Linked DNA regions of Homo sapiens. The protein of the gene in region 2 purifies or fractionates together with the protein of the main gene of each other region. This does not show direct contact. Each region holds a gene or a part of one and is shown on either strand. Other genes may lie near its edges.

Region 1 (3,824 bases), on a different chromosome or scaffold from region 2:
ATCTTGTGAGAACTCACTCACTATCATGAGAACAGCATGGGGAAAACTGTCTTCAGGATTCAGTTATGTCTACCTGGTCCCACCCTTGACATGTGGGGATTATTACAATTCAGAGTGAGATTTGGGTGGGGACACAGAGCCAAACCATGTCACCATCCTACCTTCTTAATCTCTCAGCTCCTCCTTTCCCCTGCCTCTTGCAGCAAACTCCTAATCCTTCTTCACCCATCAGCTCAGAATGTTACCTTTTCAGAGAAGCCTTCCTTGTCACTCCCACTTAGGTTCTTCTTCTTTTAAGCAGGTATAGCTTACATCACACAATTCCCAGCCTAGTAACTGATTCATTATATAACCAGGCTCACCTCTCTTGAGAGGGAGGGACTCTCATTTGAGAGCAGGGACTGACTTTATTTGAGGCTAAGCAATATTTATAGTATTGACACATGGTAAGTATATAATAAACATTGGTTGAATGAGCAATAATAATGGCTAACATATTGCATATATTGTTCTTAGCATCTTAACATGCAGAGATAACTGTATGAGGTGGATTCATTATCAGATTACAGTAGTTCTTCAGTATATCAGCTAGCTTAATGACAGTTGAAAGATCATGCTAGCAATTGAACAAATGTATCTGGCACACCTCTGAGCACAGAGAGGATGGCTTTTCCTCTAGGCAGATTTTCTTAACAGGTTGCTCAGTTTTTCATAGGATAATATAGACTCTGCTCAGTACAGTAATTCTATTAAGACATGAAGCAATTTAGAGTAGATACACTATAAATAAATGCCCAGGGTAGCTATGGCAATGAACTTTGTCAAAAACATCACTCAGAGAAGCAATTTTTATGTATGTTCTGTCTGAAAGAGATACAGCCCACCCATTTCTCTAAAATACATTCATGGATTAAGTCAGATTAACAGGCTATCTTGAGATTACGTGTACCCTATTCTGTAGAACTGGTTTTACTGAATTGGCCTTTGAAATGATGCTATAAGACTATTAACGGATGTCTGATAGTTTCATAGAACTTAGCGCATTTTTAAAATTATACTTTAAGTTCTGGGATACATGTGCAGAATGTGCAGGTTTGTTACATAGGTATACATGTGCCATGGTGGTTTGCAGCACCCACCAACCCGTCATTTACATTAGGAATTTTTCCTAATGCTATCCCTCCCCTAGCTCTCCACCCCTTGACAGACCCAGTGTGTGATGTTCCCCTTCCTGTGTCCATGTGTTCTCATTGTTCAGCTCCCACTTATGAGTAAGAACATGCAGTATTTGATTTTCTGTTCCTGTGTTAGTTTGCTGAGAATGACAGTTTCCAGCTTCATCCACATCCCTGCAAAGTACATGAACTCATCCTTTATTATGGCTGCACAGTATTCCATGGTGTATATGTGCCACATTTTCTTTATCCAGTCTATCATTGATGGGCATTTGGGTTGGTTCTAAGTCTTTGCTATTAAGAACAGTGCTGCAATAAACATATGTGTGCATGTGTCTTTATAGTAGAATTATTTATAATCCTTTGAGTATATACCCAGTAATGGGATGGCTGGGTCAAATGGTATTTCTAGTTCTAGATCCTTGAGGAATCACCACACTCTCTCCCACAATGGCTGAACTAATTTACAGTCCCACCAACAGTGTAAAAGTGTTCCTATTTCTCCACATCCTCTCCAGCATCTGTTGTTTCCTGACTTTTTAATGATTGCCATTCTAACTGGCATGAGATGGTATCTCGTGGTTTTGATTTGCATTTCTCTAATGATCAGTGATGATGAGCTTTTTTTTTCATAGTTTGCTGGCTGCGTAAATGTCTTCTTTTGAGAAGCGTCTGTTCATATCCTTCCCCCACTTTTTGATGGGGTTGTTTGTGTTTAAGTTTAATTTGTTTAAGTTCTTTAAGTTCTTTGTAGATTCTGGATATTAGCCATTTATCAGATGGATAGATTGCAAAGCTTTTCTCCCATTCTGTAGGTTGCCTGTGCACTCTGATGATAGTTTCTTTTGCTGTGCACAAGTTCTTTAGTTTAATTAGATCCCATTTGTCAAGTTTGAACTTAGCCCATTTTATCTATTGCAAGGATACAGTGTCTTAAGGAGATTGTTATACTGTACAATTTTCCTTTTGTAAGTCTAGAAAGACTTAAAGCATTTTTCGTATTAGAGACAATTGTGCTTTTCCTGAGCAATTAGCTTGCTTTTTCTTTATGGGTACTGTGGATTGTGTAACTGATTAGGCTTACCTTTTTTGTATAGAGTCATGGGAAGAATAGATACAAATTTGTGATGTGACTATTGCAGTTATATGGAACATCACACACTTCAGTACATTTAGATATTAGCCTCATTCTTGGCTCCGTTATATTTCGTTATCCTGGCTTTTCTCTCTCTTTATCTTGCTTTTTTTCTTTCCTTCTTCCTTTCAAATTATCCTGTCTTCCTCATTTGCATTATATGAATTCTTTTAAGCTACCTCGTCATTATTTGAAATTACATTAAGTATATATACACACAAATATACATATGAATGTAAATTCCTAAAATGAATTTAGATTTTAAAAGAGCTACCTGTAAAGTAAGCTTTTAAAACAAGTTCCTTTGAAGTTCTTTGTTTGCTATTAGTGTTATATTTTTCTTCAGGACATTAAGCAAGATTTTGTTAGATTCCTATTTCCTTTCAAGTTTGGTTCAACAATTATATTAAAGCCTAGTTAGACATGGATGTGGTTTATATTTTCAATCGATGTACTCTTTTACTCAAATAAAGCACTTGTGATATTACAGACATTGTAATCCAATGTACAGGGCTATGAGTAAAGTTATAATGAACTTTGTAACTACAAGACTGAACTCCAGAAAATGTGAGGGAAGGGCATGAAGCACTCACGTTTTTATGTGAATAATGAATACCTACTCTAAAAATGTGTATTGACATTGGACAAAAGTATATATTCTAAACTACAAATGGTAGGTGGTGTAGCATAGTGGTTAAGGACACTAAAATGTAAAGGTTAGGTTGTACAGTAGAGTGACTAAGGGTACAGACTGAAGCTAGACCTCTTGAGATTGACAAATTGGCCATATGACATAGAGAAAATGATTTAACCTCTCTGTGCCTTAGTTACATTATCTGTAATATAGGGAACAATAATAGTACCTACCTGTTGGGGTTGTAATCTCTGGCATGTAGTAAGCATCTAGTGAGTCTCAGTTATTACTGTCTTTAACATATGGTATAATATTTCAGAATGTATGTTGTTGATTTTAATTTTTAGGTCTCTTGCAGCTGAATGGGGTAAATATGGAATGCGATTCAATGTGATTCAACCAGGGCCTATAAAAACCAAAGTAAGTTGTATTTTGCTTGTTATCACATTGTGAATGATTAAATAATGAAACACTGATAGGTATATTCTGGTTGTTGTGTAAAGGACTTTCCAGAGATGCCTAGGTTTAGAGCCCTGGTTCTAGGGAAGAGGCCTTTGCCTTTATTCATTATCGAATATAAGAAATAAGGAGGCGGGCAGGAATATAGCAGCTATGCAATTTCTTCATAATGTCAATTTCAGTGTCTTAATCGTTTGGGATCTTTTATACCATCAATGTTGGCACTTTGTCTGATTTGTTTCAGTGGTCTGTTATTGTCCTGTATTTGTTAACTTTCATGACATTTTAAAGGCTCCTACATTGTCTGACATCCTTTTTTAAAAAAAATCAAGGAAATGTAACTATATTTTTAGTTTGAGAGATGCTTTGGTAACTTATTATATAGGCTTTGTCTTGTTATAGGTAGGTAGCATTTTCCTTG
Region 2 (4,259 bases):
AAAGTTGCCCCATCTGTAAGGCTCTTAATGCCATACACGTGCGCAGAATGTCTTTGGGTGATGAGCAGAAAATAGGGAAGAGACACTACGGGGGCAGGGAAGGACACACTTCCCGCCACACCTTCTCATATTGCTGCTCTTTCAAATTAATACTGAAAAAGGCCGGGCGCAGTGGCTCACGCCTGTCATCCCAGAACTTTGGGAGGCTGAGGTGGGTGGATCATCTGAGGTCAGGAGTTCGAGACCAGCCCGGCCAACATGGGGAAACCCCGTCTCTACTAAAAATATGAAAATTAGCCGGGCGTGGTGGCGGGCACCTGTAATCCCAGCTACTCGGGAGGCTGAGGCAGAATTGCTTGAACCTGGGAGGCGGAGGGTGCAGTGAGTAGAGATCCAGCCATTGCACTACAGCCTGGGCAAAAGAGGGAGACTTTGTCTAACACATACACACCAAAAATCACCAAATACTAAAAAGTACCTCCCATTAAAAAATCATTTTAGTAGAAGATAAGTAGACATAAATGAATTTCATCAAAACAATTGAGGTATTCTTACAATTACCCATCCATGGAAGACCAAAAAACTAGGTACACGTGAACACTGATGATAGAACATTGAAGTTTATGTGCTGTATTGCTCAAAATAGAACCATAGCAAGAAAATAAGCTTTTCTACACATTCCTATAAATATTTAGGGACAATATTGACTATTGGTAAATGGAAAAATACTTATTTCTGAGCACATGTTTAAAAGCTTACATCCTGACCACAGAACAATTAAGATTTTCTAGGTTTTTCTCCCCCTTCTGAGTTAACATAAACCACCTGGATACATGGAAATTGAAAGCAAAACACAGAAGACAAAGACTCTCAACTTAGGCAATGAAATTAAGAAGGAAGGTTATTTGAGAAAGAACGAATTTCGGACTGTCATATCTAAACACTTCTATATACACGTAATTTGAATTAAACATTTCCCTTACCGCTCTACACAATCCTTTAAAGGGGCTGGAGGACCAAGACGTGAACCAGGGCTGTAAAAACCAACAAAAGCCTCAGGGGTGGGTAAGGAAACGAGTATGGTCTAGGGACAGTGATTTTATTTTTAAGATGAGGTGATTGAGCAGGTTCATACATTCAGAGCTGAGAATAAATAAAGGTAGAAGAAGCAAGAAGACGATGAAGACTTTGTCTATATCCTGTCTTAGGTGACTCAAAGCATTTCATTTAAACTTTATATAGCATATATATATATATATATATATATACACACACACATATATATATTTATGTGTATATGTATTTTTTTTTTCTTCTTGAGACAGAGTCTTGCTCTGTCGCCCAGGCTGGAGTGCAATGGCGTGATCTCAGCTCACTGCAAACTCTGCCTCCTAGATTCAAGTGATTCTCCTGCCTCAGCCTCCCGAGCAGCTGGGATTACAGGAGCCCACCACCACGCCTAATTTTTTGTATTTTTTTTTTTAGTAGAGGCGGGGTTTCACCATGTTGGCCAGGCTGGTCTGGAACTCCTGACCTCAGGTAATCTGCCCACCTCGACCTCCCATAGTGCTGGGTTACAGGCGTGAGCCACCACGCCCAGCCTTACATAGCATATTAATACACACAGGGCATCACCGTCCTCACTCCAGGGTTCAAAGCTGAGGTTCTGTGGTGTTGACTGGGTTGCTCTGTTTCAGGGGAAAGTACGTTAATGCATACAGGATGATAACGCCTGGTATTTGCCAGTTGTCAGAGTGGGAACTGATCAATCAAGCCCCAGAGAAAGATGACTGGACGGCCTAAGGATTAATCTGGGATAGGCAGTCACTTTTTCCCGTGAAGTCGGGTGGGTGAGGAGTTGGGGAGAAGCTAGTTATTCGAGTCCAGGCAGGAATACAGCTGGAGGGAGGTAAAGGAAGGCTGCTGGTTGAGGTTATTTTCTGAGGATGAGTGACTTCCCTAAGCTTGCATTTTGTCTCTATGCTTTTTCTACAGACCGTACCCCTCCCACCTCACCTTTCTACCCAGGTGTCCTGAATGATTAGAAAGCAGCAGTTAAGATTATAGGGCTTGAAGTCTCAGACCCAGCTTTGAATGATTTGCTGCTTTCTACCCCAGGCAAGCCATTTAACTTATCTGGGGCTCAGCTTCCTCCCTTGGTAAACAGGACAAACAACACCGTCAGAATTGTATGGCATTTCAATAACTAAGTTACGGTTAACCATAGTATTTGCACAATTAGCACCAAAACACCCTCTGGACTCCTACCAAATGCAGACCAGACATTAGCTAATCCTGACATTCAAGTTGCAGTACCCCCTACTCTGTACTTAATTTTTACTTGAGACGAAGTCTCACTCTGTCACCCACGCTGGAGTGCAGTGGCGTGACCTTGGCTCACTGCAACCTCTGCCTCCTGGGTTAAAGCGATTCTCCCGTCTCAGCCTCCCTAGAAGGTGGGATTATAGGCACATGCCACCACGCCCAGCTCATTTTTGTACTTTTATTAGAGATGAGGATTTCACCATGTTGGCCAGGCTGGTCTTGAACTCCTGACCTCAGATGATCCACCTGCCTCGGCCTCCCAAAGTGCTGGGATTATAGGCGTGAGCCACTGCACCCAGCCCTCTGTACAGTATTTTAGACCGAATGTCTGAAAAGGACGAGAGACTTACCTAAATACCCCAAGTAAATATGAGGTTTTAGAGGAAGATCTTTTCAGCAAAATGGGGTAACTGGACTTTGTTCTTTCAAGGAATCCTTTGGTCCTGGGCTTTGAGCAGCCAGAAGGGAGAGGGTGGGGGCACCTAGTAAGCTCAATACGCGGGTTCTAATCAGCAGTGGAGAACAAAAGCGGGAAGGGCAGAGAGCAAGACAGGAGGAATACTCACCAGCTTCACACCTCACCACCAAGAGCAGGTCCAGCTCTGGGCCAGCTGGCAATCACGGAAAAAAGAAGGCCACGCCCAGCTCCACGCCCACGTGGCGATAGTTCCTGGGGAGCGCTGAGCCAGTGATGTTGCTGCTGCTCATTGGCTGCAACCGGCTCTGAACCACCAGCCCCAGGGAACAGGCACTTTTCTGCACCTGTGTGCACCACTTACAGGTGCTGCTGCTGGCAAGAGGCTGCCTTTACCACCACACACCTGTGCTGAGGGCGCCCGGATGCTCACAGCCTTCAGCTGGCTGTCCTGAAGCAATTAGTGTGTGTGTGTGTGTGTGTGTGTGTGTGTGTGTGTATGTGAGAGAGTGTGTGTGTGAGAGAGAGAGTGCATGTGTGTGTGAGAGAGAGAATGTGTGAGACAGAGACAGTGTGTATGTGTGTGAGAGAATGTGTGTGAGACTGTGTGAGTGGGTGTGAGACAATGTGTGTGAGACAGAGAGTGTGTGTGTGTGAGAGACTGTGTATGATAGAGTGTGTGTGTGAGTGTGAGTGTGTGTTGGGTGCCCTTATTTTACATAATCTGGAAGTTGCACTTGGCATTTTTTAATTTTTTGTGTATTGACAAATTATAATTGTATATTTTCCTGGGGTCCGGTGTGATCTTCTATGTATACAATGTCAAATGATTAAATCAAGCTAACAAACACATCCATTGCCTTGAATACTTATTTTTTTGTGGTGAGAACACTTGAAATGTACTCTCTTAGTAATCTTGAAACAGAAGTTTATACTTTTGATAAAGTCCCATGTATTTATTTTTAGTTTTTTTTGATGTGGAGTCTTGCTCTGTGACCCAGGCTGGAGTACTCAGTGCAAACTCCACCTCCTGGGTTCAAAGAATTCTCCTGCCTCAGCCTCCTGAGAAGCTGGGACTACAGGTGTGTACCACCATGCCCGGCTAATTTTCAGATTTTTAATAGAGATGGGGTTTCACTATGTTGGCCAAACTGATCTCGAACTCCTGACCTCAGGTGATCCACCCGCCTCGGCCTCCCAAAGTGCTGGGATTACAGGCATGAGCCAGTGTGCCTGGCCAAATGTGTTTGAAAATTCCATTTGAAGAATTTATGGTGAATGCATTTTAAAATTTATGGTCTCTCCTTAGGTCATGAAGGTCTTCTGATTAGTTTTTAGAAAGTGTAGTGTCTTTCCTTTCATATTTAGATTTATACTATACTTGGAATTAATTTTGTATATGGTATGAGGTAGGAATTCAGATTTTTTCTTCTATGTAGGAACAATCAATTTAGCACCATTTGTTACAATACTACCCTTTCCCTAGTCTTTTGTAATGTCAGCTTGTCAGAAGTCACGT

What was found.
Region 1: the proteins of NLRP5 (region 2) and DECR1 purify together in Homo sapiens (affinity purification with mass spectrometry; one large-scale study listed by BioGRID and IntAct). This does not show direct contact.

Annotation. Positions count from the first base shown.
Region 1 is NC_000008.11:90,039,437-90,043,260, forward strand, and holds part of DECR1 (2,4-dienoyl-CoA reductase [(3E)-enoyl-CoA-producing], mitochondrial isoform 1 precursor), read left to right. Parts: intron 1-3,291; coding exon 3,292-3,364; intron 3,365-3,824. UniProt on the Homo sapiens protein: Auxiliary enzyme of beta-oxidation. It participates in the metabolism of unsaturated fatty enoyl-CoA esters having double bonds in both even- and odd-numbered positions in mitochondria.
Region 2 is NC_000019.10:55,985,454-55,989,712, reverse strand, and holds the start of NLRP5 (NACHT, LRR and PYD domains-containing protein 5), read right to left. Parts: upstream 2,939-4,259; 5' UTR 2,892-2,938; intron 1,900-2,891; coding exon of another isoform or gene 1,800-1,899; exon of another isoform or gene 1,084-1,799; intron 1-1,083. UniProt on the Homo sapiens protein: Component of the subcortical maternal complex (SCMC), a multiprotein complex that plays a key role in early embryonic development.